7 linked regions of the Homo sapiens genome follow. The protein of the gene in region 1 purifies or fractionates together with the protein of each later gene. This does not show direct contact. Each region holds a gene or a part of one and is shown in the gene's direction. Other genes may lie near its edges.

Evidence for each region.
Region 2: the proteins of VDR (region 1) and PACSIN2 purify together in Homo sapiens (affinity purification with mass spectrometry; one large-scale study listed by BioGRID and IntAct). This does not show direct contact.
Region 3: the proteins of VDR (region 1) and SNX18 purify together in Homo sapiens (affinity purification with mass spectrometry; one large-scale study listed by BioGRID and IntAct). This does not show direct contact.
Region 4: the proteins of VDR (region 1) and MED13 purify together in Homo sapiens (affinity purification with mass spectrometry, with the first as the bait; 2 studies listed by BioGRID). This does not show direct contact.
Region 5: the proteins of VDR (region 1) and GLMP purify together in Homo sapiens (affinity purification with mass spectrometry; one large-scale study listed by BioGRID and IntAct). This does not show direct contact.
Region 6: the proteins of VDR (region 1) and LEF1 purify together in Homo sapiens (co-immunoprecipitation; one study listed by IntAct). This does not show direct contact.
Region 7: the proteins of VDR (region 1) and CDK11B purify together in Homo sapiens (affinity purification with western blotting; one study listed by BioGRID). This does not show direct contact.

What each region holds. Positions count from the first base shown.
Region 1 is NC_000012.12:47,849,495-47,852,994, reverse strand, and holds part of VDR (vitamin D3 receptor), read left to right. Parts: intron 1-3,500.
Region 2 is NC_000022.11:42,889,650-42,893,149, reverse strand, and holds part of PACSIN2 (protein kinase C and casein kinase substrate in neurons protein 2), read left to right. Parts: intron 1-1,967; coding exon 1,968-2,203; intron 2,204-3,500.
Region 3 is NC_000005.10:54,544,423-54,547,086, forward strand, and holds the end of SNX18 (sorting nexin-18), read left to right. Parts: 3' UTR 1-2,164; downstream 2,165-2,664.
Region 4 is NC_000017.11:61,981,779-61,985,278, reverse strand, and holds part of MED13 (mediator of RNA polymerase II transcription subunit 13), read left to right. Parts: intron 1-188; coding exon 189-279; intron 280-413; coding exon 414-628; intron 629-911; coding exon 912-1,108; intron 1,109-2,164; coding exon 2,165-3,081; intron 3,082-3,500. UniProt on the Homo sapiens protein: Component of the Mediator complex, a coactivator involved in the regulated transcription of nearly all RNA polymerase II-dependent genes.
Region 5 is NC_000001.11:156,292,880-156,296,883, reverse strand, and holds the start of GLMP (glycosylated lysosomal membrane protein isoform 1 precursor), read left to right. Parts: upstream 1-1,204; 5' UTR 1,205-1,238; coding exon 1,239-1,358; exon of another isoform or gene 1,359-1,587; intron 1,588-1,867; coding exon 1,868-2,125; exon of another isoform or gene 2,126-2,208; intron 2,209-2,318; coding exon 2,319-2,519; intron 2,520-2,647; coding exon 2,648-2,866; intron 2,867-3,173; exon of another isoform or gene 3,174-3,266; intron 3,267-3,307; coding exon 3,308-3,564; intron 3,565-3,674; coding exon 3,675-3,840; coding exon of another isoform or gene 3,841-3,872; 3' UTR 3,873-4,004. UniProt on the Homo sapiens protein: Required to protect lysosomal transporter MFSD1 from lysosomal proteolysis and for MFSD1 lysosomal localization.
Region 6 is NC_000004.12:108,092,433-108,095,932, reverse strand, and holds part of LEF1 (lymphoid enhancer-binding factor 1), read left to right. Parts: intron 1-3,500. UniProt on the Homo sapiens protein: Transcription factor that binds DNA in a sequence-specific manner. Participates in the Wnt signaling pathway. Activates transcription of target genes in the presence of CTNNB1 and EP300.
Region 7 is NC_000001.11:1,649,005-1,652,504, reverse strand, and holds part of CDK11B (cyclin-dependent kinase 11B), read left to right. Parts: coding exon 1-66; intron 67-2,867; coding exon 2,868-3,006; intron 3,007-3,500. UniProt on the Homo sapiens protein: Plays multiple roles in cell cycle progression, cytokinesis and apoptosis. Involved in pre-mRNA splicing in a kinase activity-dependent manner. Isoform 7 may act as a negative regulator of normal cell cycle progression.

The sequences.
Region 1 (3,500 bases):
TTATTGTCTTTCAAGTAGCAGCAATAGCTGTATTTACGGCAGAAGGGGCAAAATGCTTCCTAGATACTAATGCTCAGATTCAGTGCTGGAATATGGGGAGCTGGAAAATGAGTTAACATTGCCGGCTCTGGATGGAAACAGATTATGAGGTGCCATATATTGGTGTATGGCCCTCTTAGCTGTGTAGAAAAGCCATGAGTTATTGCCGAAATTAATGCCTTGCCAGTGAGATGATGGTCATTCACAGAGCTAAACCCAGAACTTTCCAGTTTGTTTCTGCCCTGAGAAAACTGGCTCTGTGTTATTTTATGCCTCTCACCAACCCAAATAACAGAAATTTTTCGATGCTCTTCCCCTGGAATTAATGTGAAAATGGTGAAGAAGAGAAAACTGGCAGACAGTGCTGAGACACTCCTACTGCATTGCACATTTTGGTTGTAGTGATAGGAGCGAGGGCCCCTCTGGCAGGCAGGCAAGCAGGAGCAAGCGACAGATCTTGTGTGAGCCCGGCATTGCTCTGAGCCCAGGGTTTACCCTCAGAGGCTTTCTTTGGAACTGACAACACATTCCGTAGAGCACAAGTTCCAACTCCCTCCTCCACGCTTCACGTTACTGTTTGCAAACTCCACATATTCCAAAGTCTTGTTTTGTGTAAACAGCTAGGGAAAAAACACAGAAGCACTCGGCTTCCATCCTCATGTCAGGCAGCAGTCCTTGTCTACACAGGCTTCATCCTTCCCTGCTCTAGTGGGGAGTAGGACAGAGGGCCCCCACGGCCCTTTCCAGATACAGTGATTCCAGGTTCAGTGATTCCAATGGTGGCTGAGATTGCATACACGGGAAAGCTGCCCTAAAAAGAAAGTTACTCATTAAATCGGATTACTCCAATGCTGCCCCCTTCACTAAGGAACCCCAGCCTCCAATTTCTCCCATGCTCAAGGCCCCTATCCATTGCCCTCCCACATGTACCCTGACACAAATAGCACTACTCTCAGTTTCTCTTCCCGAGGTTAAGTTGAAGTCTGCCCTCTTCCTTTCATCATGTTCTCCTCTGTCCCCTAGTCTGTCCTTGCAACTCATGGCTAAAGTGAGGTACATATGGCAGGTACAGGAGCTGCCCAGCCATTGATGCAAAATGGGTTAAACTGATCCTGAACATGCTAGGGTTGGCTTCTCTGTCTTCAGTATGACTTGAGAAGTCCCAGAGCAGAAGGTATGCCAATGAAAATGGAGCAGGCCTTGCTAAGAGAGCTTGCAGGGACACTGGTATGGACGCTCTCTGTGACTGGACAGAGGTGATGCTGAGCCTGGACTGGAGCCCAAACCTAGGCTCCAACTGGGCCCAGGGTGGGCCAGCCCAGTAGCTCTCTGGTTCTGCTGCTTTCCACACTTAGGGGTTCTATTGTTCCAAGACATAGAAGAACAGTGGCTGCATCCCTGGTGGCTTTGATCTTGCTGCCTGCAGGCAGGGGCGGAGGGTGTGGGGAAGGCAGGATGAGACTTCTGTGTGGGTGTGTGGGGGCACAGGATGAGTCTCCAGTGGGGGCATGAGACCAACGTGGGGCAGGGCTGGATGGGCTGTTCTTGGTGTGAACTGTGCTACAGTGTGGCCTTGGCCTGCTCTCTCCTCCCATCTCTCCTCCCTTAGCCTCTCAGTCTCACCCCACAAATCTCCCTCCCTGCTGGCACTGCAAATGAAATGCATGGAGGAGGTGGCATCAGCAGCAGCATCTAAATGGCCAAGAGCAGCCTTAGATCTGAGGACTTGGGACCCCCAGGCTTCACTGACAAGTAAAGTACACAAGAGACCAGGCCACATAAGCTGCAGCCCTGCCCTCTTCTGCTAAATGCCTTCACCTTCATTGCCATTTCCATACCTAGGGAAGAGCCCTGGGGGTTATCATGCTTCCTTCGTGCTGTGCCCTTTCTCCACATTCATTTCTTCATCCATCCAACAAATAGCTTTCTTACATAAACTGTGAGGGACAAAAGTTGTTGAGAAGACAGTCCCTGGCATCCAGGGATTTGGTGTCTGATGAAAGAGATAGACATGTAAACAATTGCTGCAAGGAGATAAGAGCCCTGCTACAAGCCTGCTGGAGGTACCGTGGGAATGCGGGAGGGGAGGGGAGGGGCCGGGCTCTGCCTGTGGGGGTGGGAAAGACGAAACAGCAACACAATTCCAGTCACATCTCGGGTGCCCAGAAGCGGCTGCAGGCGTGAAGACAGAGGAGGGTGTAAATGTCACACAGGTGAGGGAGGGGGAACGGAGCTGTGCTGGTGCCTATCATCGTGGAACAAGCTCTCTTATGGCTTCCCCTGTAACTCCACCTCTACTCCCACCACGCCACCATCCCTGGTCCTGGCTGTGAGCTGTATTTAGAAAGGCCCTGTATTTCCAGGCTGTGGGCAGTCATTTGGGGTCGTTTTGGGTTTGTGTTCCTAGCAGCAGGATGTCTGGATCACAAAAGCAGTGATCCCACTAAAACCTCTCTGGCCTGCATCCATGGAAGATGTGTTCACTGCTGGCCATCTGTTTGAGTGGGGCACTGAACAAAAGGCTATGTATAAAGTTATTCCTCCCAGAATTACCTATGATAGCAAAAATTGGAAGCAATCAAAATGTTCAAAAATAGATAAATGGAAGACTGGCTCAATAACTTAGAGTATACTGTTATGATGTAACATCATGCAACCCTCTAAGAACTGGGCTAAATAATTTTGAGTGATATAGGAAGTAGGATAAAGAATTAGTATAAGCTCCAGTATGTTAAATGTATACTCCCTCTCTCTATGTATATTTGTGGGTATATATATATTTGCATAGAAAAAAGACAGGAAGGTGCCAGGCACGGTGGCTCACACCTATAATCCCAGAACTTTGGGAGGCCAAGGTGGGCAGGACTCACTTGAGGTCAGGATTCAAGAGCAGCCTGGCCAACATGGTGAAACCCCATATCTACTAAAAATAGAAAAATTAGCCAGGTGTGGTGGCACATGCCTGTAGTCCCAGCTTCTCCGCAGGCTGAGACAGGAGAATTGCCTGAACCCGGGAGGCAGAGGTTTCAGTGAGCCGAGATTGCACCACTGCACTCCAGCCTGGGTGACAGAGCAAGACTGTCTCAAAAAAAAAATTAAAATAAATAAATAAGAAAAAAAGATAGGAAGAAAATACGCCAAAATGTGAAGTGTGGTTATGAGCAAATTTAATTTGTTTTTACATTTTTATGTATTTTCCAAAGATTTGATAATGAGTATGTTTTACTTGTATAATGAGTCAAAACAAAAATGGGGATGGTGTTCATTTTTGTGTTTTAAATGTGGATTGAGCATCTAGAGAAAAGTGACAAGGATGGTGAGATGTTAGACATTGTGTCATTAGACTATCTGAAGGAGGACACGGCAGTTTTCCTTTTTAAAAAACTCCATTAGTTATGGTTCAAAGGAAGTCCCATGGCTAGTGGAGAAGTCTGGTTCTGGGTTTATTGAGCACAAAACTG
Region 2 (3,500 bases), on another chromosome or scaffold:
AAGGCCTTGCCGCTTGGCACCTTAGTTTCTAACACTGAGAGCTGTTTATTTTTAAACTTGGCCATGTAGCAGGTCAGATAAGACTAGCTGGCAACACCTGGCAGTCTTTCTGAGTTTACATTTTAAGGGAATAATTACAGGTGTTGTATGGCAGAGGTTTCACCCCCTTCTGTCCCCACCGAAAAGCTCAGAAGATTCTGTAGCTTTATTAGTGCCACTGTTGTGTGGACAGGGGCCATGCTTAGAACACACTTCCCAGCAGGGAAGGGGAACTTGACTGATTACAGCCTTTCCGGCACAGAAGCAGAGCAGTGTGGGTTTCTCAAGGTGTGTTTTGGGGCAGGCTTTCCTGTGCTGACCAGCTGTCCTCAGCCCCAGCTGTCCTCAGCCAATCAGGGGAGCCAGGTCCCAAGCAAGCCAGGTCTAGTCCAGCTGCCTGTCCTTTCCCGTGATGCTGACATGGGTTGTTTGTGTGGGCTTAGCACAGTCCTTAGGGCAGGGTATGTGCCCAGGCTGTGGAGCAGGCACGTGGCAGAGGAGGGGCCTAGGATAGGTCAGCTCCCTTGGTCGGTGGCAGTGTCGTCATTTCGTTTCCACCTGCTGCAGCCCCTCTCCCAGGATCAAGCTGTCAGTCAGAGCTTGAGGTTTACAGAGCACCCTTACCACCCTCACCTTGTGGGTCTGGCTGTAACGTTGTGGACAGGACAGGAATGTGCTCATTTTGTAGACACGAAGGCACAGAGAGGTCCAACTTCCGGGGCTGTTCTCTGTTGTCTCCAAGCCCCAGAGTCACGTGTCCCCCTCTGGGTTCTCACAGCCTGCCCTCCCCTCAGCCCACCTCTGTCATGACTCAGCGCACTTGGTCACTGTCCCTGTGACCACCTTGAAGACCAGCCATGGATCTTCTCGATTTCTGCCCCGGCTCCGTTGTGGCTCTCCCTCCCTCCAGCCTCACGCCACCCCACCCTACCCCCTGAATAGAAATGCCAGCCTGGATTAGGGCTTCCTTCCTGAGCCTCGGGGACTGAGAACAGTGAGTAGGGAGAGGCGACTCAGCCCCTCCTGCCATACTGGTCCAGAGCAGGCTCCTGCTTCCTCCTCTCCTTCCTCCTGCAGGATGGGCTTCCATTCTGCTGAGGGGACAGTCCTCATTCCACAGTGTTCTCAAGCTTGTGCTCAGAGCCAGGCTCTTTCTGGGAGTGAATGAACACAGTCCTGCAGAGGAAGGCAGTGCAGGGCTAGCCAGGGGCCAAGCAGGGCTGATAGGAGCCATGCCAGGAGAAGCGTTGGCATGGTGTGGGTGGGTGCCCAACACCTGGGAGAAGCATCTGCTCACTTCAGAAGGTCCCCCCTTCTCTGGCCACCTTTAAGTAAATTAAGACTTCTAAGATGTGGAAATTTGAGTTTTTATAGAGTTCAGTGGCTTTAAATAAAGGAAAGGCATGGCCGGGCGCGGTGGCTCACGCCTGTAATCCCTGCACTTTGGGAGGCCGAGGCGAATGGATCACCTGAGGTCAGGAGTTCGAGATCAGCCAGCCTGGCCAACATGGTGAAACCCCGTCTCTACTAAAAATACAAAAATTTAGCCAGGCGTGGTGGCGGGCACCTGTAATCCCAGCTACTCGGGAGGCTGAGGCAGGAGAATCTCTTGAACCTGGGAGACAGAGTTTGCAGTGAGCCAAGATCACGTCTCTGCACTCCAGCCGGGACAATAAGAGCGAAACTCCATCCCAAAAATAAAAATAAAGGAAAGGCATGTAATCCCCCAATTTTCCTAACACGAGGGGCAGAGCAAATTCAGCTTTGGGAACTGAAAAAGGCACAGAGTCCCTGAGAGAAAAATATCTGAAACCCTGAAAGGAAACCCTCTGTGGTCTAAATGGCCACATTGAACAGCCGAGGTGTGAGCAGAGCAGACCCCACCATGGCCGGCGCTGAGTGACCCGCAGCTTCTCTCCCCTGCACAGGGCCCCAGTACGGGACCGTGGAGAAGGCCTGGATGGCCTTCATGTCCGAGGCAGAGAGGGTGAGCGAGCTGCACCTCGAGGTGAAGGCCTCACTGATGAACGATGACTTCGAGAAGATCAAGAACTGGCAGAAGGAAGCCTTTCACAAGCAGATGATGGGCGGCTTCAAGGAGACCAAGGAAGCTGAGGACGGCTTTCGGAAGGCACAGAAGCCCTGGGCCAAGAAGCTGAAAGAGGTACATCTGTCCTGCAGGCTTCCCTGCCCGGCCTTGCTCTGCCTGGCACCCCACTAGCAGCACCACCTCCTGCACCTAGGACTTCCTGCCACTGGCTGTAGGCACAGGAGGCCAGACCTGGTAGAGATGAAGCCACTCCTCAGGCTAGAAGCCCATGGTAGTTGACATTTACCCAGGTTGAAGATGCTGAATGCTCTATGTGCATTCTTTAAATTTTTTATTTTTATTTTTTGAGACAAAGTCTCACTCTCTCTCCCAGGCTGGAGTGCAGTGGTGCAATCTCAGCTCACTGCAACCTGTGCCTCCTGGGTTCAAGCAATTCTGCCTCAGCCCTCCGAGTAGCTGGGACTACCGGCACATGCCACCACACCCTGCTAATTTTTGTATTTTTAGTAGAGACGGGGTTTCACCATGTTGGCCAGGCTGGTCTCGAACTCTTGACCTCAGGTGATCCACCCACCTTGGCCTCCCAAAGTGCTGGAATTACAGGGCATTCTTTAAATTTGATCCTACCAACACATTTTACAGATTTGGTAACTGAGGATCAGAACCATACATTGGTGGTAGAGCTCAAAGCCCAAGCTCTTAACCACTAACAGTACTTCTCCCAACCCTGGGGAAGTGTCTGCTGGAGACTTAAAAGTCCTTGCCGGGCGCGGTGGCTCACGCCTGTAATCCCAGCACTTTGGGAGGCTGAGGCAGGCGGATCACGAGGTCAGGAGATTGAGACCATCCTGGCCAACATGATGAAACCCCATCTCTACTAAAAGTACAAAAATTAGCAGGGCGTGGTGGCGGGCACCTGTAGTTCCAGCTACTCAGGAGGCTGAGGGAGGAGAATCACTTGAACCCAGGAGGTGGAAGTTGCAGTGAGCTGAGATCACGCCACTGCACTCCAGCCTGGTGACAGAGGGAGACTCTGTCTCAAAAAAAAAAAAAAAAGTCCCTTTGGCTGCTCTGCGTGTGCAGTAGCCTTTCTTTATTCCTTTACTTTCTCAATAAACTTGCTTTCACTTTATTTTTTTTTCAAGTCCCTTTGACGATAGAAAGAACTAGTTTACATTTTTCTTTCTCTTGCATAGGTTTTTATCCCAAAATTTCAAACATTGATACCTGTTTTTCTAAAAGTAGCAACCAAAGCCATTGAGTTTTGTCGAGCCTTGGCTAGTTGGAGGCTGTCATCTGTCCACCCCAGCCCTCAGCTTGTGTGCCCCGCCCCTGCCTGCAGCCTCGCCCCCCATTCCTAGCTGGAATGGAGTAGACGGTAGATGTGCCACCCCCAACACCCAGATGTTCT
Region 3 (2,664 bases), on another chromosome or scaffold:
CTACACTGTTAACTGATTGAGACTCCACTGTGATTCACTTGTTTACTTAAAAACTTTTCAGGGATGTCTGTAAATTTCAGTGTTAATATGTCATGAAAAGTGGTGTGGATTGATCTAAGGAGGGACCAGAAATAATTTTTGCTATTCCAAATACTGAAGGAAAAAGATAATTGATTTATACTATGTTTTAAAAAAAAAAAAGGTATTGATGAGCCCCCCCCCCCCAGGACATTTAACCTTAAAATTTATTTTAAATGTATTCTTTTATTATTATAAGGGAAATACAGATGGCTGATAAATACCAAAAAGATTCAAAAGCAGCTTAATTTAAAAAGCACAAAGAGATTCTGGCTTACAGTGCCCCAATCTCAATGTTTTTATAGTTGCTGAGCTAACTAATGTGATTATTGAGTTTACAGATTTAAAAATTGTCACTGTTAGAGTATCTACTGTTTTTATGAAGTCAAACTTATGCTGCCTCAGAAATCCCTGGGTACTGAAATGGTAACATGGAAGTGAAGAGGTCACTTTGAAATATTGGTGAGTCACAAAGATTAAAGAAAAGGATCAGTTTGCAGATACTCAGAAAAGGTTATTGAAATAATTACTGAACAGCACATTTTCTCTCTAAAAAGTAGTTTCATATGGGTTGTATTTTTAAGATCAGATTATCATTTTGATATTTGGTCAAAATTTTGTACCTTAGGTTACTTAGAGCCAGATTTAACATCATGAACATTATGTGGCTTTGTCTTTACTACAGATATGTGGAACTGTAACCAAATATGTTGTCTCTAAAACTTGTTGATTGCAAAATACAGTTCTATAAACAAAACCCATATGTATATATAAATGTTAATTTTGCGGAAGTCTGGAAATTATAACTATAGCATTTAAGTTTGAGTCTGTATTGGACAAATAAGCACCATGCTTTTCAAATGATTTAAAAATTACTTTTATTTGCCTCTTTATTTTGATGGTGGTTGGATTTTTTTTTTTTTAATAGTAAAATCACTAAACTTGTGCAATGGTAGCATGGAAATTATCTGAGGTATATTGTATGATTGTACTTTAGCCAGGGTGGACATAGCTTAAATTATAAAAACTAAAGATGAAAGTACAAGGAAGTATAAGTTATACTTATGTAAGTATAAATTCATGCTGCCTACTTCTAAGAGAAATTTCATTCTTCATAACCACATAACATTATAATGCCACTGATTCATACGGGATTTACATTAATTCTATGGGGGAGGACACTAGAATTATTAGTGTTCATTTTCATCTAAGATCTTTATTCTCTAACGTTCTTGGTCCTATTGAAACATTGCAGTATGCAAAACTACTGCAATGTTAAACCCAAGAGAAAAGCCATTATCATGTGTATGCTGGTCATCATGATCAGTGTGGTACAATTTTTAAAAATAAACTATCATGCCCTTCATGCCATTATTTGTCTTTATTTCTATGATTTATAATCCTGATATGTGATGTGTTTGTAACACAGGGTGTGCACTTGAGCCTGGTTTTACTGTTTTTATTAGACAGAGTTGTTTATATGCTGTAACTGTAACGCAGCGAGACTGGTTCTACAGCCATGTGTCGTAATCTTGTTCCCCGTCCAAGCTGTTGTATCTGAAGGTACCCAGTTTGCACCCAGGATGAGGGAACGCATTCAAAAGTGAAATGTAAAGCCAGTGCACGAATATTATAGTAATTGAGATTTTCCCAGGCTTCACTGATACAGTTGTTTTGCATTTATTCACAATAATACAGCAGATTCTTAAATGCCGATTTTTAATTGTCTTAAATTTTGCTGCTGTTCTCATAATTAAGGACTTGAAAAATGTTTTAGTCTGTCAAGTATGTAAAGTTTGTGTAAAAACTTTTAAATGTCATTCTTAAGTTCATTGCCATAGCCATTTTCCATTTATGTCTTCATTTTCCAAAAATCAAATGCCATGTCTGATACCTTTAAGTCCATAAGCATTCAATTTTCTCATTTCCACCTTCATCTTTGGTTAACAGAATAAGTAAAACAGGGTATTATTTATTTGTAGTCTAGAAATGTTGAATATTGTTTTATTTCCTTCAAAATGTTATGATTAGTGCAGATCAGCCATGTTTATCTTTTTAAAAAATAAACAGGTTGCTTTATTTCTTAGCTTCAATGGAATATAATTATTTTTTCTCCACTCATCAAGGAGGCATTTATTTAATGTGAAGAATTACACAGAAAAATAGAAGAGCATGTTCTGTCTTGAGCTTCATCTGCAGTTACCATAGAAATTATTCATCAAACACTGTAGCTAATTTGATTAATTTAAAACCATCATCATTCAGATAGTCCCATGGAGTATCTGCTTCCATTAGTGACATCAGGAATTAAGCACATAGCAGTAAGTTGTGAGTGAGAGGTTTTGAAATAATAGCTCCCATGAGTCCAATACCTGAGACAGAAGCAGGTGCTTAAGTAAAGTACTTGACATACTGTCTGTTGGTTGCCATAAATAGGCGAACTCCAACACACATAAGCCAAAATATAATAGCTACGGGACCTGGCATATCTTGCAAGGGGCCAAAGTCCCATTTGGCAAAGCTTGCCCTCTTTGTGGGGCTTTGTAGTCTTGTATCTGCTTATCTTTACAGATTTGTTTTACATAT
Region 4 (3,500 bases), on another chromosome or scaffold:
TTAATCTGGAGTCAGTGATTAAGAAATATTTTATATCTTTCAACACTAGTATGTATTTGGCTGTATCACAGATTCAAAATACTACTTTTAATGAATGGGCTTTACTGTTAAGTTATATCTGAATGATTACTATTTTGAGATCACATTGGATGTAAAATTTTAGATAAATATGTGCTTTTTTTAAATAGCCTGGATCTAAAAAATCAGCAAATGGATCAGATGATAAAGCCAGCTGCAAGGAATCAAAGACAGGAAATCTGGACCCGTTATCTTGCATAAGTAAGCTTCCCTCATCTGTGCTCGAGATAAATTTGCGAACTTTTAATCTCAACAAAGCTCCCCACTCCTTTTGGTTTAAACACAGATTCGCCTATTTTTAGTCATGTTAAAATGTATGTTTTTATTAAATATAGGCACTGCAGATCTTCATAAAATGTATCCTACACCACCATCATTGGAACAACATATTATGGGATTTTCCCCAATGAATATGAATAATAAAGAATATGGTAGTATGGATACAACACCTGGAGGAACTGTTCTAGAAGGAAATAGTTCTAGTATAGGAGCGCAGTTCAAAATTGAGGTTGATGAGGGATTCTGTAGCCCCAAACCTTCTGAAATTAAAGTAAGTATGTTTTTTCTAGAAAAATAATTCACTTCCTATATTTTCTTATAGAATTAATTTGTTGCTATAGTCAAAAATTATTTTATAGTGGTTGCGGTTTTGTAGCTAAGTTGAGGACTGAATTATTGTTGTCACTATTAAGAATGCATTTAAGAAAATAATAGAATTGTATTTAGATTTTATTCTGTTTAAAGAAAGGAAAAAAGGTCCAGAGCCTGTTTGTTTATTTATTTTTTCCTCCTAGAAGATAAGATACTGAAAACCTACCATCTTTATATTGTAGGATTTTTCTTATGTCTATAAGCCTGAAAATTGTCAAATTCTAGTGGGATGTTCCATGTTTGCACCTCTAAAAACTCTACCAAGCCAATATCTGCCCCCTATCAAATTGCCAGAAGAGTGTATTTACCGTCAGAGTTGGACTGTTGGAAAATTGGAATTGCTTTCTTCAGGGCCTTCAATGCCATTCATCAAAGAGGGGTATGATTTATGTTGTTACAATAGTATGTGACTGCTTATACAGCTTTAATTTTTTTTTCATAGATTTACCTGGTATGCTGGAAAAATAAAATTGGTTTTTGAAAATTCTAAAAATTATTTCTGGTTAATCAATTATAGTGATTGGCTGGGAGCAGTGAATCACGCCTGTAATTCCCATACTTTGGGAGGCCAAGGCAGGCGTATCCCTTGAGGTCAGGAGTTTGAGATCAGCCTGGCCAACATACGAAACCTCGTCTCTACTAAAAATACAAAAATTAGCCAAGCGTGGTGGCGCATGCTTGTAGTCCCAGCTACTTGGGAGGCTGAGGCACAAGAATGGCTTGAACCTGGGAGTCAGGCATTGCAGGGAGCCGAGATCGCACCAGTGCACTCCAGCCTGGGCAAGAGTGAGACTTTGTCTCAAAAAAAAAAAAAAAAAGGTTAATTGGGTATGGATAAACTATTAGGAAACTTAAGACTATTATGCTTGATTTGTATTCCGAAGCACCTTTTCTTTTGGGCTGCAATTTTAAATTGCTCCCATTTTTACATTTGCCATCTTTTCCACACTTTTCACATTTTAACATCTCTGACTTGGTCAGTTTCAACTCAAGGCTAAAAGAAATCTGAATCTGAGATGTCTTATAAGTGGTAGCATTTTAAAATTACCATTTTTCCCTTTTTACACATGAGCATCTCTAAAATCATTTTTCTTTTTTTATAGTCAGTAGCATCTTAGAATCAAGGAAATATAAGTATTTCTAGTAAACAAAATTTATAGATAGTAAATATGGATGTCTAGGTATGCATTAGTGTATAGAGTGCTTATTAATGATTTTTGAACTTGTTAATTGATCCTTAGTCAACAACAATCACTTAGAGTAGATATGTTAACCAGAAATAAGAATTGACTGTGCTTGTAATTCTTGCAATACTTGTCCTTTCATAATTTTCTATGTAATTGAAAAACATTTGGGACGTTTTTAGTTGTATTTCACATTACTAATATGTTCCTTTATATATATATTTGATCTTCTTTTACCCTGGTGATGATAGTGATGGAAGTAATATGGATCAAGAATATGGCACTGCTTATACACCTCAAACTCATACTTCTTTTGGGATGCCTCCTAGCAGTGCACCTCCTAGTAACAGCGGAGCAGGAATTCTTCCTTCTCCATCCACCCCTCGGTTTCCAACTCCAAGGACTCCAAGGACTCCTCGGACTCCTCGTGGAGCTGGTGGACCTGCTAGTGCTCAAGGTTCAGTCAAATATGAAAATTCAGACTTGTATTCACCAGCTTCTACCCCATCTACATGCAGACCCCTTAATTCTGTTGAACCTGCAACTGTCCCTTCCATCCCTGAAGCACACAGTCTTTATGTAAACCTCATCCTTTCAGAATCAGTTATGAATTTGTTTAAAGACTGTAACTTTGATAGTTGTTGCATCTGTGTTTGCAACATGAACATCAAGGGTGCCGATGTTGGAGTTTACATTCCAGATCCAACGCAGGAAGCACAATATAGGTGTACCTGTGGCTTCAGTGCTGTCATGAACAGAAAATTTGGAAACAATTCAGGATTATTTCTTGAAGATGAACTAGATATCATAGGACGCAATACAGACTGTGGCAAAGAAGCAGAAAAACGTTTTGAAGCTCTCAGGGCTACCTCTGCTGAACATGTTAATGGAGGACTAAAGGAATCTGAAAAATTATCTGATGATTTGATATTATTGCTACAAGATCAGTGCACTAATTTATTTTCACCCTTTGGAGCAGCAGACCAAGATCCTTTTCCTAAAAGTGGTGTAATTAGCAATTGGGTACGTGTTGAAGAGCGTGACTGTTGCAATGACTGCTACCTTGCATTAGAACATGGGCGTCAGTTCATGGATAACATGTCAGGAGGAAAAGTTGATGAAGCACTTGTGAAAAGTTCATGCTTACACCCCTGGTCCAAAAGAAACGGTAAAGTATGCCAATAAAATACTTTTTTGTTTGCTTATTTCCCTTTAGTTACATTCTTAGGAAAAAGTAATAAAGGCAGTTTCCCATGTGGCAAATACATTTAAAGTTGGACTTAAAACTCTTTATGGATGATGTTTTTAAAGGGAGAATTTCTTAGCAGTTTAGTTTAATTTCACCAATAAAAGTATGGTTATTATAAATCTGTAATTATATACTTATGTAGGAATATGAAAGGCACATTCCATATATTTATTAGCATAACATTGCTAGTGGTCTGCTTTATTCAACATTCTTTCACTCATTAAGTATTTACTGGGCACCTTGTATGTGCCAGGTATTAGCCTAGATTCACTGTTGAACAAAGCACACATATTCTTTGCCCTTTTTGAATCTATAATTTAGTGGAGAAAATAGGAAAT
Region 5 (4,004 bases), on another chromosome or scaffold:
CTCACTGCAACCTCTGCCTCTTAGGTTCAAGCGATTCTCCTGCCTCAGCCTCCCAAATAGCTAGGATTACAGGCGCCTGCCACCATACCTGGCTAATTTTTGTATTTTTAGTAGAGACGGGGTTTCACCATGTTGGTCAGGCTGGTCTCTAACTCCTGACCTTAAGTGATCCACTCACCAAGGCCTCTCAGAGTGTTGGGATTACAGGCGTAAGCCACTGTGCCCGGCCTAGCCCCTTCTTTCTCTCTCTCTCTCTCTCTCTCTCTCTCTCTCTCTATATATATATATATATATATATATATATTTTTTTTTTTTTTTTTTTTTTTTTTTTTTTGAGACGGAGTCTCGCTCTTGTCGCCCAGGCTGGAGTGCAGTGGCACAATCTTGGCTCACTGCAACCTCTACTACCCGGATTCAAGTGATTCTCCTGCCTCAGCCTCCCGAGTAGCTGGGGTTACAGGCGCCTGCCACCGGGATTACAGGGCCCTGCCACCGTGCCCAGTGAATTTTTTGTATTTTTAGTAGAGACGGGCTTTCACCATCTTGGCCAGGCTGGTCTTGAACTCCTGACCTTGTGATCCACCTGCCTCAGCCTCCCAAAGTGCTGGGATTACAGGTGTGAGCCACCGTGCCCGGCCTTTTCTTTCAACATTTAACAAATAAGTTGGCTTTTTTGGAAGTATGTTGTTGTCATTTAGTGACACATCTCTAAATATTTACAATTTTTGTTGAAATGTTAGGCAGGGAAGAAGAACCACATTGTTCCACAGGGAAGAAGAACCACAGAGTTTCATGTGCTGGAGTAGAAAGAAGGTGTATGAGTTCCACAATGGGACAGGGTTGGGAACTTAAGGCAATGTACTGGAGTAGTTCCCTGTTGGGTTTATTTTCTTTAACCTGTCTTTGTGTCAAAATGAGATTTCACGTTCCTCTTAAAACATGCCGTTTGAATACTGTGTTTTTGGCATTGTCCAAGGAAAACTGAAAACTTGTAGCATGAATGTTTTTTTTTTCACTTAAAATCTTGTGACCATATTAAATTGTATTACTTGTAAGAGACTGACGTTTCCTGTTTTAAGATAGAATACAAAGCTGTTCTTTAATACATTAAATGGTGCTGACGAAAGGAAATTTTTTTAAAAAGCAAATAGTTTGGCGGCTCCGCCCTTGAAAGGGATCAGCTGAACGCGAGTCATGTGACCCTCTGGCACCTCTTCCGTCGGCTGAATTGCGGCCGTATGCGCGGCTCTGTGGAGTGCACCTGGGGTTGGGGGCACTGTGCCCCCAGCCCCCTGCTCCTTTGGACTCTACTTCTGTTTGCAGCCCCATTTGGCCTGCTGGGGGAGAAGACCCGCCAGGTGAGGGCCCTGGGGCTACAGCGATAGAAGTTTCAGGAAACGCTACCCTTGCAGGGTGGCTGGAACCGGGCATCCAGGGGCTAGGGGTGGAGGGTGGCTGCCAAGAGGAGGGTTCTTCAACCTGGAGGGTGTGGGAGATGGTCATGGGTCATGGGACGGGATTGTGGAGTAGGGCAAATGTGAGGGTGATGTCTGGACCCCGACTCAGCCCTGGGTGACCCAGGTCCAGGCAAGTGTTGAATGTTTTCTTCTTCGCAGCCCTGTGCCCTGACCCGCCCACCAGGGTCAGGGGAGTCCTGGCTGTACCCTCTACCCTACCCCTTTTCATCCTGTCCCCACTGCCCCTTACCCCAGGGTTCCCTCAGCTCCCGCACACATTCCTCTTGTCTAGTCCCCAAAATCCCATCCTTTGTCCAGCACTTTCCAAGCCCCCCTCCCCTCAAGCTTCTCTTTTGCCTGTGTCTCTCCTTGGTCCTGTTCCCTCAACCCTCCACTACTCCATGTTCCAGGTGTCTCTGGAGGTCATCCCTAACTGGCTGGGCCCCCTGCAGAACCTGCTTCATATACGGGCAGTGGGCACCAATTCCACACTGCACTATGTGTGGAGCAGCCTGGGGCCTCTGGCAGTGGTAATGGTGGCCACCAACACCCCCCACAGCACCCTGAGCGTCAACTGGAGCCTCCTGCTATCCCCTGAGCCCGATGGGGGCCTGATGGTGCTCCCTAAGGACAGCATTCAGTTTTCTTCTGCCCTTGTTTTTACCAGGGTGAGGAGGTTGGGAGAGAACCAAGGAGAAGAGTGCAGAGGAGAGAGTTCATCCCAATTAGAGGGTGGAACTAAAGACTGGGGGTGGGTGAAATAGACTCAGATATGAAAGCCTTGGTAGGGGGTGAGTGGGAGGTGTGGTCTCGGGAGAAAAACTGAGGCAAGCCCAGTTCCACCCTACCCCCACCCTCCAGCTGCTTGAGTTTGACAGCACCAACGTGTCCGATACGGCAGCAAAGCCTTTGGGAAGACCATATCCTCCATACTCCTTGGCCGATTTCTCTTGGAACAACATCACTGATTCATTGGATCCTGCCACCCTGAGTGCCACATTTCAAGGCCACCCCATGAACGACCCTACCAGGACTTTTGCCAATGGCAGCCTGGCCTTCAGGGTAAGGCGTGAGAAATCGGAAAGAGCTCAAAAAGGCTGATTTGTGAGGGTGGGATTTAATGATGGAGGTGGCCCTTAAGCACAGGCATCCAGCTATTTCCCACACCTCCCATGCTTCTTCCTTCCTAGGTCCAGGCCTTTTCCAGGTCCAGCCGACCAGCCCAACCCCCTCGCCTCCTGCACACAGCAGACACCTGTCAGCTAGAGGTGGCCCTGATTGGAGCCTCTCCCCGGGGAAACCGTTCCCTGTTTGGGCTGGAGGTAGCCACATTGGGCCAGGGCCCTGACTGCCCCTCAATGCAGGAGCAGCACTCCATCGACGATGAATATGCACCGGCCGTCTTCCAGGTCAGGCTTCCTGGAGAGAGGCAGATGGGTGAGGAATGTAGGTGGGACACCATTGGGACCTAAAACTCATTCAACCATTTGCCATTTAGCAACACTTTCTTTGGGTCGTTTAAGAGCTAGGCACTGTGCTAATGAATCTGACCCAGTCTCTGCCCTCAGTGGAGACAGACAGAAAGTGCAATATGACTTACACTCTGGCAGATGGAGATCTGCAAGGGGGCTAGGGGCCAAGAGGAGGGCTGAGTCCAGACTTGGAGGTTTGGAAAACAACTCAGTCCTCACCCAGTCGAACTCCCCATTTTTACAGAGGAGGGATTGAGGCCCTGCCTAGGACTCAGGACTCCTGCTGCTAGTCACAGAATAAGGCTGGGAGTGGCAAGGAAAAGAGGGTCGGGCACAGGTTGGTCCTCTTTACCCTCCCTTGTTTGCCTTTCTTCCCAGTTGGACCAGCTACTGTGGGGCTCCCTCCCATCAGGCTTTGCACAGTGGCGACCAGTGGCTTACTCCCAGAAGCCGGGGGGCCGAGAATCAGCCCTGCCCTGCCAAGCTTCCCCTCTTCATCCTGCCTTAGCATACTCTCTTCCCCAGTCACCCATTGTCCGAGCCTTCTTTGGGTCCCAGAATAACTTCTGTGCCTTCAATCTGACGTTCGGGGCTTCCACAGGCCCTGGCTATTGGGACCAACACTACCTCAGCTGGTGAGAGCCAGGGTTTGGGCCGGGGACTTGGGGAGTTGAAGTGGACAAAGGCTGAGCCTCCCAGCCTTTCCTCCTAAGCCCGCTTACCTCTCTCTCTCTGCTTGCTCTAGGTCGATGCTCCTGGGTGTGGGCTTCCCTCCAGTGGACGGCTTGTCCCCACTAGTCCTGGGCATCATGGCAGTGGCCCTGGGTGCCCCAGGGCTCATGCTGCTAGGGGGCGGCTTGGTTCTGCTGCTGCACCACAAGAAGTACTCAGAGTACCAGTCCATAAATTAAGGCCCGCTCTCTGGAGGGAAGGACATTACTGAACCTGTCTTGCTGTGCCTCGAAACTCTGGAGGTTGGAGCATCAAGTTCCAGCCGGCCCCTTCACTCCCCCATCTTGCTTTTCTGTGGAACCTCAGAGGCCAGCCTCGACTTCCTGGAGACCCCCAGGTGGGG
Region 6 (3,500 bases), on another chromosome or scaffold:
CATAATTAGATGTCATTTTTCCTTTACCCTGATCTTTCCTCAGCCTCTAACCTTAACCCCAGTCCCTCTATTTACAGGCTCCAGTTACTGAAAACAATGGGTCTCCTTTTGGCTCCCAGAATGAATTATTCCCAGAGCCTTGTTTCCTTCTCGATAAAACAGAAATCTTAACACCTAACTTAGGTATGGCTTTAGGATTAAATGACGTAATGTTTGGAATTCACCACCTTACAGAGAACTTGGAGAATAGTGGGTTTTCCATGCGTTTTAAAAGGGAGCCCTTCCAGCATTCTGTTGTAGTCTGATTGCCTCTGGTAATATCAGTTTTCTCCAAGTGGTCCACTGTTCCTCTCTAGATGCTTCATTACAGTTGAGGCCACAGCAGGCCACATTCACTTGGTTGGGGGGTAGTTTGGAATAGAGATGGAGAGAGGAGCTGAGCACCAAACAGTGTGGGGCAGGAAGAGCAGGGACTTTGGTATCAAACAAATGCCGGCACAGATCCTCTCTCCACTAATTATTACTTAGCTCTGTGTTCAAAAAGACTCAGCCTTCTCATCTATAAATATGGGGGTAATAATACCCACTTACATGGACGAGTGCCAGAGTATATAAAAGCGCTACTGTAATGACTGGTACTTACTAACTGTGCAACCCATGTTAATTCCTTTCCCTGTGATATGTTCCTTCCCCTCTTAAGAAAACATTTCAGTTGTCTGATGATGGTGCAGGTCTCTAGACCATCCCTTTTCCTCCAGAGTTGGGCTCATGGACCGTTTGAATCTTAAGATCCTGGGGCCTCGTTCTTATCTGAAAAATGCAGCTGCATCACCACCAGTAGGGGGTCTTACATTTGAAAGCCACATCAGACCTGAAGCAGGTGTTTGGCTTTGGTGGATCTTAGGAAATATTTCCAGTACCTTGTTTCTGAGGTCTAGATGCAAGAATCAATGTATCCTTTTGGAGTAAATCTGCCTCTCTTTCTGGGAAGGCTTGAGAAGCTCAGATTCTCAGAAAAGGAGGGAAAGGCGCAGCATGAAGTTACATGGCTTTATGTCACGAGTACCAGACTTCTGAAGTGTTTAATGAAAAGCAAAAATGCCACCATAACAATCAAGGCCAGATGAAATTCCTCATCTCAATAAGTTGATGAAGTGTTAAAATTCCCCTGGATTCAGTTATTACCAGAAGATTATTGATTAAATGCACAGCCAGTTGAAACTCCAGACCTTTATGCACAGCCAGATCCCGCACTTTGGGTTTAGTTTAGTTAGAACCTGGAGATGTGGAAAATGAGGACTAGCTACCAGGACAGCAGGTTTCTCCCCCAGTTACTCCTCTATCCAGGAGGCCCCAGGCCTTAGCCAGTAGGGAGTTGAACCACCTTTTTAGTTCTTCCCAGAACCACATCCTCTGAGGCTAACAGCTTTCATGACACCTTCAATTCCTGCCAGTGGTGAGTGGGTCATTTCTGGGAATGCTGCTTTGGGGGTGGCTCTCAGGATCCCTAAGTGGCACCCACTTCGTGTCCACAGGAGGTATGGGTTTTATTGGCTGTGATGCCAAAGAGGTCCTTACCTGCAGGGACCAGCCTGGGTGGCAGCCAACCAAGCTTCCTTGGCATGTTTTCCAGTCCTGGAGAGAAAGGCTGCAGTTGAGTCTCCGTAGCTTTACCCACTTCTGCTGAGGTGCTTCTTTGTCTCAAGTGATTCCTGTGCCTGGGACAGAGACCACACAGCCATTTCATAGATGTCACATGCTCTCAGGTGTGGCCCAAATGGTCACCTCAGTGTCCAAGATTTTATGAACTTGGCTTTCAGGAAGGCCACATGATGTACAGGTAATGAGCTTGGCCTCTAGAGCCAGACTTCTGCATTTGAATCCTGGCTTGGCTGCTTGCTAGAGCACATACCCTTCAAGAATATTTTCTTCTCCATGCCTGTTTCCTCATCTGTAAAAGGGGGATAATAATAGTACCTGCCTCAAAGCTGTTGTGAGGATAAAGTGCTTAGCACACAGTAAGCAGTTGGTAAGTGTTAATTGCTGTAATTACTATGTATTATGTGGGTAGGTTGGCCTGATGGTGATTTGCAAATTTAAGAAAGGGTTTCAAGCTTCTCCCTAAACAGCCATCCTTGATATTTTCTCCCTTTTCTTTCTTTCTTTTTTTTCTTTTTTAAGTATCTACTCTTTTTGTCTTTTCCTTTGCTCACCCACCAATCACCTGCCTGAGATTAAAGAATGTGCAGTTGGAATCAGAAACCAAGGGTTTTGGCCTAACTCTTACTGCCTTGTGAGCTTAAACAAGTCACTGAACCTCTGACCAGAAGTGGAGAATTTGGGGTGACAGGGCTGCCAGGTATCTCGTAAAGCTGGAGTAACTGTGCATCCTGTGACCCTGGGATAATGAAACAGAGCACATATTGGGACTACCTGGTGATTCTCAACTGGAAGCTAAGACTTACCTGATTGTATCTGTGAATCAAAAAGCAGGTGATTTTTACCCTCTCTCCCTCCTTCCCTCCCTTACAGCGAGATGTGTAGTAGGAAAAGCACCCGAGTAGGAATCAGGAGACTTGGGTTCTATTAAGTGAGGTACTTACTATGTGTACAGTAGCCAGCACAGAGTAAGAGCCAAAAGGATCGAACTTTTCTACTGCTGATTCCACTGTATTGGGCAGCCCAGGGGGTTCATTCCCATTGTATTCAGTGTCCCTGCGTTACTGGAGTTGTGTAGTGAGCAGGACTGTACTATTTTATACAGTAGTCCTGGCTTGACCTACCCATTCCCTGGTGACCTCTGTTTCTCGGCTTCCAGTCTGTAAAATTAAAATAAGGAACTAAAATAAGCTACTAAATATACTTTAGGTTTCTTAGAGCTTAAACATAATAAAAAGGCATATACTTAGATACACACTTTCTCCTATCACCAGGTTCATTTTCTTCATAGTACTTGATGCTGCCTTTTCAGATTTTGCTTGTCTTTTTTTTTTTTTTTTTTTTTTTTTTTTTTTTACATATTCATTGTTTCCAATACCCACCCCCTGCTGCCTGACGCCACTTCCAGAGCCCCAGAAAGTAAGCTGCGAGAATTAGAGACCTTATCTGTGTGTTGGTCATTGGTGCTAGAATAGTGCTTGAAACATTTTAGGTGCTTAATAAATACACACATATGCACACGGGCATGTATAACTCTGCATGTGATGTAGCCACTTAATTTGTCTACAAACACTTAGATAGTTGGTTGATTATTCTTCCGCTTACCTACTCCCCACAAGAAAATATATACCACATTTTATTAGGAGATTAAATGAATGGAATTAAGAATGGTTTTACTGGCTGTCTTAAAACTTAACCAAAGTAGCAGTGCCAGGGTTCTCACTTTGTGTGTGCACATAGTGTCAAGGGGCAGTAACTTGTGAAATCAGAGGAAGCCTGCAGATTTTTGGGCTGAGGAATCTTGACTGTGATGATGATGTGCCACATATCCGCAGTGTAAG
Region 7 (3,500 bases), on another chromosome or scaffold:
CTCATCACAGAAAAGATGAAAAGAGAAAAGAGAAACGTAGGCATCGTAGCCATTCAGCAGAAGGGGGTACAGAAGCATTTACTTTCTTTGACATCATGTTCAAGTGTGGTTTCTTTCCTGTTCCTACTCTTCTGCCTTCCCCAGAGCACCACTGAAAAACCAGAGAAAGCAAACTCTAGCTGAAAGCATACGTGTGTCACAGACCGTTCAGAATGGCTATAGAGAGAATACTCTAGCTAAAAGCATGCGTGCGTCACAGACCGAAAACCAGAGAGAGCAAACTCTAGCTGAAAGCATGCGTGTGTCACAGACCGAAAACCAGAAAGAGCAAACTCTAGCTGAAAGCGTGCGTGTGTCACAGACCATTCAGAATGGCTATAGAGAGAATAGCTGAAAGCATGCATGTGTCACAGACCGTTCAGAAGGGCTATGAGAGCAAACTAACTAAAAGCATGCGTGTGTCACAGACCAAAAACCAGAGAGAGCAAACTCTAGCTGAAAGCACGCGTGTGTCACAGACCATTCAGAAGGGCTATACAGAGCAAACTCTAGCTAAAAGCATGTGTGTGTCACAGACTAAAAACCAGAGAGAGCAAACTCTAGCTGAAAGCATGCATGTGTCACAGACCATTCAGAAGGGCTATACAGAGCAAACTCTAGCTAAAAGCATGCGTGTGTCACAGACCAAAAACCAGAGAGAGCAAACTCTAGCTGAAAGCGTGCGTGTGTTACAGACCATTCAGAAGGGCTATAGAGAGAATACTCTATCTGAAAGCATGCGTGTGTCACAGACCATTCAGAGGGGCTATAGAGAGCAAACTCCAGCTGAAAGCATGCGTGTGTCACAGACCGTTCAGAAGGGCTATACAGAGCAAACTCTAGCTAAAAGCATGCATGTGTCCCAGACCGAAAACCAGAGAGAGCAAACTCCAGCTGAAAGCATGCGTGTGTCACAGACCATTCAGAAGGGCTATAGAGAGAGTACTCTAGCTGAAAGCGTGCATGTGTCACAGACCATTCAGAGGGGCTATAGAGTACTCTAGCTGAAAGCATGCGTGTGTCACAGACCGTTCAGAGGGGCTACAGAGAGCAAACTCCAGCTGAAAGCATGCGTGTATCACAGACCGAAAACCAGAGAGAGCAAACTCTAGCTGAAAGCGTGCGTGTGTCACAGACCATTCAGAATGGCTAGTCCATTTTTCCTCTGGGGTTTTCTCTCCCCCATTATATTGTTTGGAAGCAGTTTGTTTACATTTAAAATGACCTGAATTCAACAAGTATAGGAGAAAAACACACCCCAAAATGGGTATTTGCTCAAGTCCAAAGAATGGGTTTGGCTTGAGCAGTTTGATCTCGTACCAACATCAGGAGGTTCTTACGGGTGTTAGGAAAATTGGACCTGGAGCCCGATTGAAATGTCATGATTATAAATACACTTGATTAATTAATGTGGCTTCATTGCACAGTGGAGAAGCCCACTGATAGCAAAGCTTTGTTCTGTAGTCTTTGTGAAGAGTGATTTTTGTATTATAAAACTGATAATTATAGTTTATTCAGTATGGAAAAGTTTTAAAAGACGAATATTACAATTCTGCTCTTCTGTGATAGCAGAATTGTTTTTCTTTTTTCTTCTTTCTTCATAATTAGACGCTTACTGCAGATAGTTTTTTATTTTCAAAGTTTTTTATTTAACATAAAATCATGATTATTCGGCTGGGTGCAGTGGCCCAGGCCTGTAATCCCAGCACTTTGGAGGATCAATTGAGTCCGGGAGTTCAAGACCAGCCTGGCCAATATAGCGAGACCCTGTCTCTTTAAAAAAAAAAAAAAAAAAAAAAAAGGCCGGGCGCGGTGGCTCACAACTGTAATCCCCACACTTTGGGAGGCCGAGGCCGGCAGATCACGAGGTCAGAACATCAAGACCATCCTGGCTAACATGGTGGAACCCCGTCTCTACTAAAAAGACAAAAAATTAGCCGGGCGTGGTGGCAGGCGCCTGTAGTACCAGCTACTCGGGAGGCTGAGGCAGGAGAATGGTGTGAACACGGGAGGCGGAGCTTGCAGTGAGCCGAGATTGCGCCACTGCACTCCAGCCTGGGCGACAGAGCAAGACTCCATCTCCAAAAAAAAAAAAGAAAAAAAAGAAAAATTAGGATTACTTAACGTTAACATCATTATTTAAATATTTATTTAAATATTTACTGTTCTTGATTTAATTTCTTTTTTTTTTTTTTTTGGGACGGAGTCTTGCTTGTCACCCAGGCTGGAGTACAGTGGCGCAATCTCAGCTCACTGCAAATTCCATCTCCTGGGTTCACGCTATTCTCCCGCCTCAGCCTCCCGAGTAGCTGGGACTACAGGTGCCCGCCACCACACCCAGCTAATTTTTTGTATTTTTAGTAGAGATGGGGTTTCACCGTGTTAGCCAGGATGGTCCCGATCTGACCTTGTGATCCGCCCACCTCGGCCTCCCAGAGTGCTGGAATTACAGGCGTGAGCCACCGCGCCCGGTCTTAATTTCAGTTTCACGTGGGTTTTTTTTTTTTTTTTGCCCAGGCTGTAGTGCAGTGGCGTGATCTCGGCTCACTGCAACCTCCGCCTCCCGGGTTCAAGCAATTCTTCTGCCTCAGCCTCGCTTAGTAGCTGGGATTACAGGTGCCTGCCACCACGCCCAGCTAATTTTTGTATTTTTAGTAGAGACGGGGTTTCACCATGTTGGCCAGGATGGCCTTGAACTCCTGACCTCAGGTGATCCGCCCGCCTCAGCCTCCCAAAGTGCTAGGATTACAGGCATAAGCCTCCGTGCCCGGCTTCATGTGAAATTTTTGAAGTGAGGTTTCTTTGCATGACACTTTATTTCTCATTAGGGAAGCATGCTAGAGTGAAAGAAAAAGAAAGAGAGCACGAACGTCGGAAACGGCATCGAGAAGAACAGGATAAAGCTCGCCGGGAATGGGAAAGACAGAAGAGAAGGGAGATGGCAAGGGAGCATTCCAGGAGAGAAAGGTGAGTCGGCTGGGTCAGTTGAGGACTTTATAAAAGGGCTGTGGTAGTGTGTCCCATCCTAGAAATGAAGAAGAATTTGGCAATAGAAGTCACATCTGAGCCAGGTGTGGTGGCTCACGCCTGTAATCCCAGCACTTTGGGAGGCCGAGGTGGGCGGATCATGAGGTGAGGAGATGGAGACCATCCTGGCTGACATGGTGAAACCCCGTCTCTACTAAAAAAATACAAAAAATTAGCTGGGCATGGTGGCGGGCACCTGTAGTCCCAGCTACTTGGGAGGCTGAGGCAGGAGAATGGCGTGAACCCGGAAGGTGGAGCTTGCATTGAGCTGAGATCCCGCCACTGCACTCCAGCCTGGGCGACAGAGCGAGACTCCGTCTCAAAAAAAAAAGAAGAAGTCACATTTGGTGCAGAAGTGGTAGACATGGAAACAGCACAGTGAACGCTGGACGAGGCTGACCAAGAGAACTGTCCTGAGGGAGTGAGTTTTCACT